Linked DNA regions of Homo sapiens: all the other regions are reported to be linked to region 1. Evidence: microRNA targets listed by miRTarBase, many of them from high-throughput screens and not tested one by one. Region 1 holds a microRNA gene; each other region holds the end of a gene's coding sequence.
What was found. Region 1 holds the annotated microRNA hsa-miR-651-3p (AAAGGAAAGUGUAUCCUAAAAG, at 1,258-1,279, opposite strand). A microRNA usually pairs through its seed, bases 2 to 8, with sites in the 3' UTR of a target mRNA and lowers its output. Matches are read on the target gene's strand: a 7mer-m8 pairs with bases 2 to 8, a 7mer-A1 pairs with bases 2 to 7 and ends in A, and an 8mer does both.

Region 2: miRTarBase lists SPATA2 as a target of hsa-miR-651-3p. Seed matches in the 3' UTR shown: 7mer-m8 at 621-627 and 7mer-m8 at 1,702-1,708.
Region 3: miRTarBase lists TSPAN1 as a target of hsa-miR-651-3p. Seed matches in the 3' UTR shown: 7mer-m8 at 2,496-2,502.

The regions. Positions count from the first base shown.
Region 1 is chrX:8,125,186-8,128,296 of GRCh38, reverse strand. MIR651 (microRNA 651) reads right to left here and starts at 1,332; the gene lies at 1,236-1,332. The region is part of intron 1 of LOC107985675 (a long non-coding RNA gene); the gene reads right to left.
Region 2 is chr20:49,902,815-49,905,925 of GRCh38, reverse strand. SPATA2 (spermatogenesis associated 2) reads left to right here. Exons shown (of 3, transcript NM_006038.4): 3 at 1-2,535. The coding sequence ends at 307. Among named protein-coding and RNA genes, the nearest start is that of SPATA2, 11 kb to the left of the region's middle.
Region 3 is chr1:46,185,107-46,188,217 of GRCh38, reverse strand. It overlaps TSPAN1 (tetraspanin 1), which reads right to left. Exons shown (of 9, transcript NM_005727.4): 7 at 3,103-3,111; 8 at 2,910-2,993; 9 at 2,256-2,732. The coding sequence ends at 2,685. Among named protein-coding and RNA genes, the nearest start is that of P3R3URF-PIK3R3, 10 kb to the right of the region's middle.

The sequences.
Region 1 (3,111 bases):
CTGTAATCCCAGCACTTTGGGAGGCCGAGGCAGAAAGATCACTTGAGATCAGGAGTTTGAGACCAGCCTGGCCAACATGGTGAAATCCTGTCTCTACTAAAAATACAAAAATTAGTTGGGCATGGTGGCACACACCTATAGTCCTGTGGTCCCAGCTACTCGAGAGGCTGAGGCAGAAGATCACTTGAACCCGGGAGGCGGAGGTTGCAGTGAGCCGAGATTGTGCCACTGCACTCCAGAATGGGCAACAGAGCGAGATCCTTTCTTAAAAAAAAAAAAAAGGAAAAAAAATTGGCTAAGAATTTAGGACTTTCTTAAGGAGATAAAGGGAAGATATTTAAGACTCTCATAGAACACAATTTAGACGGCTAAAAAGCTAAAGATGAATGCAATGTATCATAGCATCATCTTACATGAGTAGGTCTTGGGGCTTGGTTTGGTTTGTTTTGCATTTCACAGTCCTTTACCAGAGAGTTGCAGGTTGTTATCAACATTTTCTGCAGACTTTTGGAGATAAACTGTTTTATCTTAGAGTGATTCCTCCTGATACAATATAATGAGAGGAATACAAACCCCTTTATAGAAAAGGCACACATTTCAGCATACAGCCTAGGTAAAAAGTAAGGGTTAACTGGCTTAGTTGAGATTAATTATATAGATGTTTATTTCCCAGTTGTTATGTGTCTGTAACATAAAAGTGGTTATTGACTAAAAGTAGATGTGCTTCATTAATATCAGTGTGAGGAGAAGAGCAACAGGGAAATGCAGGCACCCATGCCGTGTGGGCTGGAATCTGGAAGACGTGGCCCCTGGCCAGGTATGCGCTGATGACAGGTGACATTCACCTTGCAATCTGCCATAAAATGGGAATCATAATACCTGCTCAGTCCTCCAGATGAAATATTGACTGGAAGTCATATATAAAATCGTCAAGCAAAATGCACAATAAAATTAAAATTGCTACTTTTCAAGACATAGGAAGTGTATTAATTGTTTTTTCCTGCTTCTTTTCTGTCAGGATCAACGTTGAATAAAGTTTTGTCAAACACATCTCACTTGATGCATCTCATATCACTTAAAAAATAACATTGGGAAAGTCTTTCCTTTCACTTTATTCATCCTGACTCTTCTTTGCTAAATATTCTGTATACAAATTTCCACATAACATTATGTTTAGAGTTGTACTATCCACACAAAATGGTTCATATATGGATCTCTTGAAGGTTGCATGTCAGAAACACATTAAACTGTCATTGCCTTTTAGGATACACTTTCCTTTTGCATTTTTATTTGAACAAAAGTCAAGCTTATCCTAAAAAGCAGTGATAGATTTCTGTAGATCTAGGGAATTGTTAATACATTTTGTTATCTGTATCATACATTTGTACACAGCTGCTGAGTAATTCAACTGTTTAGAGTTGAACTAATGTTTTTGAACAATAAGTCAAATTCCACGATTTAATCTACATCACAAGAATTTCACTTCCATGGCATTATGGAAAAATGCGCAATCTGTTGTCAAGGTTGAATTTCATTTCTGCTTTCACAAATAAATTATGCCTGTCATTTCCATTAGACACAGTCCTTACCTAGATCGTTACAAAACATCTTTGAGAAGCTTAGGGCATCTCCTATGTTCCACTTCAGATAGAGATATAATTTACTGAGGGGTTAGAAAGAATGGTCAATAAAGCTGACAAAATATTTTAGCATTTGGAAAAAAATTTAAATGCCTTAGTGCAATAATTCCTGGGGAAACTATGGTCGCTAAAATGACTATAATTCTTATTCATGTTCATTCCCGGTTTAGGGGCCTTCCTTAAAGAAACTAATTTCAGAATTTATTTAAGTCATAATAAAGGGTCTTAAAACCACCTGATTTCCTGAAGTTTTCTTTACCACTCTGATTTCCTGGTGCCTTCCTCTCTTCCCTGTGTCTAGGTGGAGAGTGGGAGGTGCACATATGAGGTAATGATGTGTGTGATGATGTAATGACGTGTCTGATTATGCAATGATGTGTTTGGTGATGAAATGATGAATGTAATGATGCATGAGAGGCTCTTGTTGATTGCAGATGATAAGAATAAAAGACTTAGCTCACTACTTCTGGCAGGGTCTGGTAAGAAGGCATTACCACCCTATGCATTCCAACAGAAGGAATCTATTGAAAATGAATCATTTAGAAAGGGGCAGGAGATCCAGAAGAAGGTAGAAAGGGAAGGTAAGATGGCCAAGAGATTAAGAACTGCAGAAAGCTCCTACCACTTCTGTGCTGAAGGAGTGAAAGAGAAAATGGTTTCACCAAGAGCCCGTAATCCCCCACCACTGAGGCTCTGAGAGTATTCATGGCAGCCTTAGAACCAAGACCACCACCTTGCAGGAATGCAGGAGCCCAGGGCCCTGATGCTGTCTCAGGACTCTGGGAGCCTGAAGCTGCCAGCCCGTCACCACCATGGCTTGAGCCAGAGCCTGCACCTGCCGTGCCCCACAGGCTGCTGCATTTGTGCTCGACACTGCTGCCTCACTGCGACCACACTGCCTGGGGACCACGTGGGAGCCAGTCTTTCCCTTATGGAGGCTCTGGACAAAGGGAGGGAACCCAAAAGCCTTCCAGTTCCTGTCTGTGCTTCCCATTGGAAGAGCCCCATATTCCAATCTCACACAGTTCACCCCCACCCCGACCCTTTCAAAACTCATGCAAGTTCTTCTCTTTGGTAATCACTAATCCAACACCCATACTCAGAGGCTCCAGACTGAGAAATGTATTTGTAGGATCCCAGCACCCCGCGACACAGGGGATAGCAGCAGAGAGTAGGAAGGAAGCTGGAAGCAAGAAGATAAATGACTGGTGCTCTTGGCAATCAGTCACAATGCTCCTGGGATAGGGCTGCCTGACTTAGTAAAATGACAGGTTACCCAGTTAAATTTGAATGCCAAATAAATAACAAATCACTTTTAGTTTAAGCATATCCCAAATATTGCATGGGACATGCTTATACTTAAAAAAAAAAACACATTTATTGCTTTTCTGAAATACAAATTCAATGGGTTAACATGTATCCTATCAGGCAACTTGTCCCAGGGGCTATCTGACTTACTCCTTACAGCACT
Region 2 (3,111 bases), not on the chromosome of region 1:
TCATGACAGCCTGGCCCACGGGGCATCTCTGCGGGAGAAGTACCCAGGCCAGACTCAGGGCCTCGACCGCCTCCCGCACCTTCACTCCAAATCCAAGCCCTCCACCACGCCCACTTCCCGCTGTGGCTTCTGCAACCGCCCAGGCGCCACCAACACCTGCACCCAGTGTTCAAAAGTCTCATGTGACGCCTGCCTCAGCGCTTACCATTATGACCCCTGCTACAAAAAGAGTGAGCTGCACAAGTTCATGCCCAACAACCAGCTGAACTACAAGTCCACCCAGCTCTCCCATCTCGTGTACAGATAGACCGGCCTCGCCCCTTCCAGCTCCAAGGGCTACATCAACCGACCTTTCGGGTTTCACGGTGAAGAAGTACTAACGCATTGATCTCAGAGGCGGAGGCCTGCACTTGACCATGTAGGTGGCAGAGATCGTGGGCTGGCTGTGTCCACGTGGGAGTTCACTTAGCGACTCAGATATCTCAACCAATGGCTGCTTTGTTGTCTGACAAGGGAGAAGGTGGCACTTCCGTTCAGATTCATTTTGCTAATCTCTCCACTCCCTGTTCAGTTGGTTCTTTTTTTGGGGTTTTGTTTTGTTTTGTTTTGTTGTTTTGTTTTTTCCTTTAAAGAGGATTTCTGTCTCTGGGACCCTCGCTGCACCTACCCCTCCCATTGCAAAGCCAACTTGGACTGGGAAGGGCCCTTCAGGTCACCAAACATCCACCTGGAGCGGCGAGCTAGAGGCCTGTTGGCTTGTGAAATGAGCCCTCCTGCCACACGGGGCCTCTCCCAAAGGCTCATCCCTTGGCCGCCCCCTTCCTAAACACAAGGATCCCCAGCTGGACTCCCCACCCCCTGGCTTCCCCACCTCTCCAGGTGTCAAAGGTGAACCGAGTCCAGTATTAGCTGAATGTCATTTCGTACACCACAGCTCAGTCAGCCCATGGCCTTCGTGAACTTTGCTCCAACACACTGATGTGTGGGCTTCCCACAGCAGGACTGACTTCCCCCTTTCTGTTGTTTGCACATGCCCCTCTTACTGTACTGTCAATAGATATTTTTGAGATTTATTTTTAAATAAATATTCAACTTGCTGTGTGTTTCAACGTGGTTAAAAAAATGAATTATGTAGCTATTTATTAAATGCCCTGGGTTCTTTAGTCTTCCAAGGGAGGGCCTCGCGCCCATTCGTGTTGTATCCTCCACTCACTATGGCCCGAGGGGAGAGGAGAGTTTGGGGCAGGGAGGAACAGACATGAAGCCTCCTTTTCTTGAGCTGGTGGAGAGCCACTGTCTTCCCTGCAGTAACTATCTATACACCTACCTCCAGTGTGCACTTAGGGGGTGAGCGCGGGTGTCGAGGTCTGTGTGTCTGCAGACTGCTAACCTATGACAATTCAGGGACCTCACCTGTCGGACCTATAGCTTGCTGAGCAGGAACCTTGCACTTCACACTTCTTGAGTCTCGTTTCAGAAGGAAAATCATTTGGGATTCCTACTGCCCCTCCATCTCAATCCTCTTCTCTTCACCAGTTTCCAGGACTCATCTGCAACATTTGCAATCTTTTTGCACTAAAAGTGGGCAGGAGTCGGCATGTGCCCATCAGAGAGACGGCTCCTCAGATGCTCAGCTAAGCCTAAGCGCTTCCAAGCCTGAAGGCCCCTTCAGCTTCTCATGTGAATTACCAACCCCTGGATTTTCCTTGTGGGGGTACAAGAGCAGGAGTGGGGCAAGAGTTTGAAAATAAAGCCGCTTCCTTGTGAACTAACTATATTTTAGCCATAACTGTTTGTGATGTACACAATGTTAAGGGATTTATATGCAGTGGGCTTTTCTGGGAGAAAGTTATTCAGCTCTTGAGCAAGTTTAAGTCTGGCTGAATCCTGAGGCCACTGTGAATTTGCTGATGTTCTTCCAACTCAGTTGAGTGATTTTAAGGTTTTCCAAATCTTCTATGGCTCTCTTTTTAATATATATATATATATATATATATATATATATATATATATATATATATATCTATCTGGTAGATCACATGTAGATGTACAGTGTGTATATTAAGCTGAATTTCAACCAACTTTATTACTAAGACCAGCCTAGCAGGGCATTCATCTTTGATGTTCTTCCTTTTCACATTTCAGAATCGGCAATGCCTGGCCCACTCCTGAGAGCTCTAGTTTTCTAGTTTTCCATTTCCAGATTGCGCCAGCATTACAGTAACTAACTCTTTCTAACCAACCGTGATGCCACGTAACTTACCCTATGGACAAAAGCAGGAATGACTAACACATCCTAGGAGGGAAAGTCCAGTGTACCTGTCATCACGGACGCACTGTGGTCACAGACTGGAATACGAAATACTACAGCCCTGCTCCCAGGTGTGCATCTTACTGGATGAGGTTGCTGTGATTGAGATAGTTAAATACATGCTAATTTAAAAATGCAGATGTTTTACATTTGATTTCTACCAAGAGTTGAAATGTTGAGAGATGATTAAAAATAATAATAATAAAGTGTCTTCCATTGTTAAATGAAGTGTTTGGGGTTTTATGTCCCCTGGCCCTGCTTTGAAGTTTGGTTACTTGGGAGTTTATTTTTCCTTAAGCTGTATTTAGTTTTTTAATGACAAGACTTAAATTTTCTCTTCCATGAAACTGACAAATAGCATTTGAGTGCTATACTGCGAGCCTGGCACTTTTTATTTTTTTAATTTTTTGTAAAAAAAATTTTTTTTTTTTTCGAGACGGAGTCTTGCTCTGTCGCCCAGGCTGGAGCACAGTGGCGCTATGTCAGCTCACTGCAAGTTCCGCCTCTTGGGTTCACGCCATTCTCCTGCCTCAGCCTCCCAAGTAGCTGGGACTACCACACCTGGCTAATTTTTCGTTATTTTTAGTAGAGACGGGATTTCACTGTATTAGCCAGGATGGTCTCGATCTCCTGTCCTCGTGATCTGCCTGCCTCGGCCTCCCAAAGTGCTGGGATTATAGGTGTGATCCACTACGCCCGGCCATGTTTTTTTTTTTTAGTTTAAGACGGGCTCTGTTACTTCCCAGTCTGGAGTACGGTTGTGTGATCATGGCTAGCTGTAGCCTGGACCTCTTGGACTT
Region 3 (3,111 bases), not on the chromosome of region 1:
AAGGGTGTCTATGGCCCTTAGAGCACTTTGCTATTCAGAATTCTCTATCTGGGCATTTTTGTGGAGAAATGGGTCATGGTCTTCATCAGATTCTCACATAGCCAGTAACCCAAAGAGGTTAGGAAGATCTAAGTTAGTCATAGGGGCACCAGAAAATGGATGGGATTGTCCAGAGGGAGTGAATGAGAAAGCCTACGGCAGGGAAAAGAACATTTAAGGGATCTGTGAAGGGCCTAATGTCAGGAGGATGAGTGTGGAGCACCTCTTCAGAAAGGGTCTGCCTGCCTCTGTACAAGTACAGAACTCCAGCTGGAACTCCAGCCCTCCTGCCTGCTCTCTGCCCTGCCTCTTTCACAGGTGCTTGGAGCCCAACTCGGTGACAGCATGGGTGGTATGTCGCTTGGACATATCTCGCCACCCTGACGCCTTCAGTGTTTGTTGGAGCTGGATATAGTGCCTGAGGTGGCACAACAGCCAGGTTGAGCAGCAATTAGCCCATGATGAGGTAGAGGCCCGCCCTGGGCAAACAAATCCCATGCAGCCTCCACACAGGCACACGGCAGAGGAGAAGTGTGAGAGGCACAGTATGGTGGTGAAGGGGTGAGGCAGGCTAGCTCCTCCCCCTGTCCCGCACCCTAGCAGGCTCCTGGTCTGGCCCTCACAGACCAGCTCTAAGGCACTGTTTGGTTCTGGCCAGGTCCCTCTTCCTTTCTGGGCTCAGCAAGGGGGTGGTGGTTCTGGGCTGCCCTGGAAAAGCTCAGGAAGAGAGTTACAGGGGTCAAAGGGAAGTAAGGAGGGGGACTGGTTTGTTAGGCTGGGCTTTGCTTGGTAGCAGACACTGTACCCTCTTGCCATAGCCTCCCTCAGGCCTCTCACTCCTGGCTCAACAGTGATCAGGTCTATATCAGACATTCTGGCCAGCTGCCCCTTCAAGTGGAACTAGTACCATGTCAGCCAGGACTACACCAGGTGCTGGAGTTCTGGGCCCAAATCTAGGCTGAGCTCTTCACAGAAGCCTGTGGGACTGGGGCAAGTATCTTGGCCTTTCCGATCCCTAGTTTCCTACCTGGAGCATAGGGATAGTTAGGGCTAAAGAAGAGATGAGGTCTAGGTCAGGTGAGGTGGCTCACGCCTGTAATCCCAGCTCTTTGGGAGGCTGAGGCATGTGGATCACCTGAGGTCAGGAGTTCGAGACCAGCCTGGCCAACATGGTGAAACCCTGTCTCTACTAAAAATATAAAAAGTTAGCCGGGCGTGGCCGGGCACGGTGGCTCATGCCTGTAATCCCAGCACTTTGGGAGGCCGAGGTGAGTGGATCACGAGGTCAGGAGATCAAGACCATCCTGGCTAACACAGTGAAACCCCGTCTCTACTAAAAATTCAAAAAATTACCCGGGCGAGGTGGCGGGCGCCTGTAGTGCCAGCTACTCGGGAGGCTGAGGCAGGAGAATGGCGTGAACCCCAGGGGGCGGAGCCTGCAGTGAGCCGAGATCGCGCCACTGCACTCCAGCCTGGGCGACAGCGAGACTCTCTCAAAAAAAAAAAAAAAAAAACACAAAAATTAGCCGGGCATGGTGGCAGGTGCCTGTAATCCCAGCTACTCAGGAGGCTGAGGCAGGAGAACTGCTTGAACCCGGAGGCAGAGTCCGCAGTGAGCCGAGATCACACCATTGCACTCCAGCCTGGGCAACAAGAGCGAAACTCTGTCCCAAAAAAAAAAAAAAAAAAAGAAAAGAAAAGAAAAAGAGGTGAGGTCTGAAGAACACCAGGTAGGCCAGCAGCAACGAAAAAATGAAGTGCTTGCTGAGATCCCAGAAGCAGGGACAGATCTGGGGTTTTGCCTGAGTGGGAAAGGCAGGCAGCCTGGACCCTAGGAAGGGGGCTCCTGAAGGGCTTCCCAGAACCTAAGGAGTGACCCTTTCCCATTGCCCTGGTAAGAATTCGTCACAAGCTTGTTATTTTCATAGCTTTCCAGTCCAGTGCCCCTACCCAGGAGGGGGTAGTTTCAGTCCAAAGTTCTCCCCTTTATAAGGAGGCAGACTGGCCTAACCCAACTGTACTTCTTCATGCCCTCTCAGCCATCCCTCTTAGTTTCCCTCCAAGGCCTGGAACCCAAATGAAGGGGAGAAATAACCACTTCTGACCCCCAACCCCACCCTACTTCCCTCCTTTCCAGGGCCTTCTGAGTTGGCAGCCCCACAGGAATCCGTGGCCAGTTTAGGCCCCTCTCCCCAAGGATACATGAAGAGTCCAACTGGCAACATTGTAACAGGTTTATGCATTTTGAAGTGCCTTCTACACATCCACCCAGAGGCTCTGCTGATTTCACTTATGCCCAGGCTATAAAATGCCTTTCTCTCATCCCCCAGTAGAGCACTGGGATCACCACTAGGCCTAGGGGGCATATCAAGGGTTTAATAGACTGGGGGAATGGGCAACAGAACTGGCTACCTTAGAGGCTCTGGAATGCCCCCCACCCATCCACCCACCAATGGAAGGAAAGTCAGGCATCGCCTAAAAGGAGTGGTCCCTATCTAGCCCCAAGTCTGGAGCAGAAAGGGCAGGTCCATTCTGGCCCAAGTGACATTGTTAGATCCTGTCCCCTCCCCCAATCACTGCTGCTTGCCAGGGTGCCTCTTCACAGTTCCCATGTGGCAGCAGTAGTGGCAGAGGCAGAAGTGGACTTATTGTAGATTGCAGTACAGATACATGGACACAATCATGGCAGCCAGCTGGAGAGGGAGGAACAGGGAGAGATGAGGGAACATGATAGGGATCCTGAAGCCTGTCCCACAGACACCCTACCTGAGGCCCAGTTAGAAGTCTGTTTCCTCCAGAGAGGCCTCAGATGGGTTGAGCAGCCCTGGTCTCATGCCCATGTCCCAGTCCCAGCCTCCTCATCTGCTTACCTCGAGGCCCCCAATTCCAGCTGCCACACCACCCACGGTGACTGCATTAGTTCGGATGTCATACAAAAGCTGATTGAAGCAACCCTTCAGGAAGAGAAAAGAGCATTTATAGTTGGCAGCTGCCCTACTCCCATCCCCGTTTGCCACTCTGAGGCCATGAAAACAGTCCCCACCCACTCATGCCAGCCCACACCTCTACTTT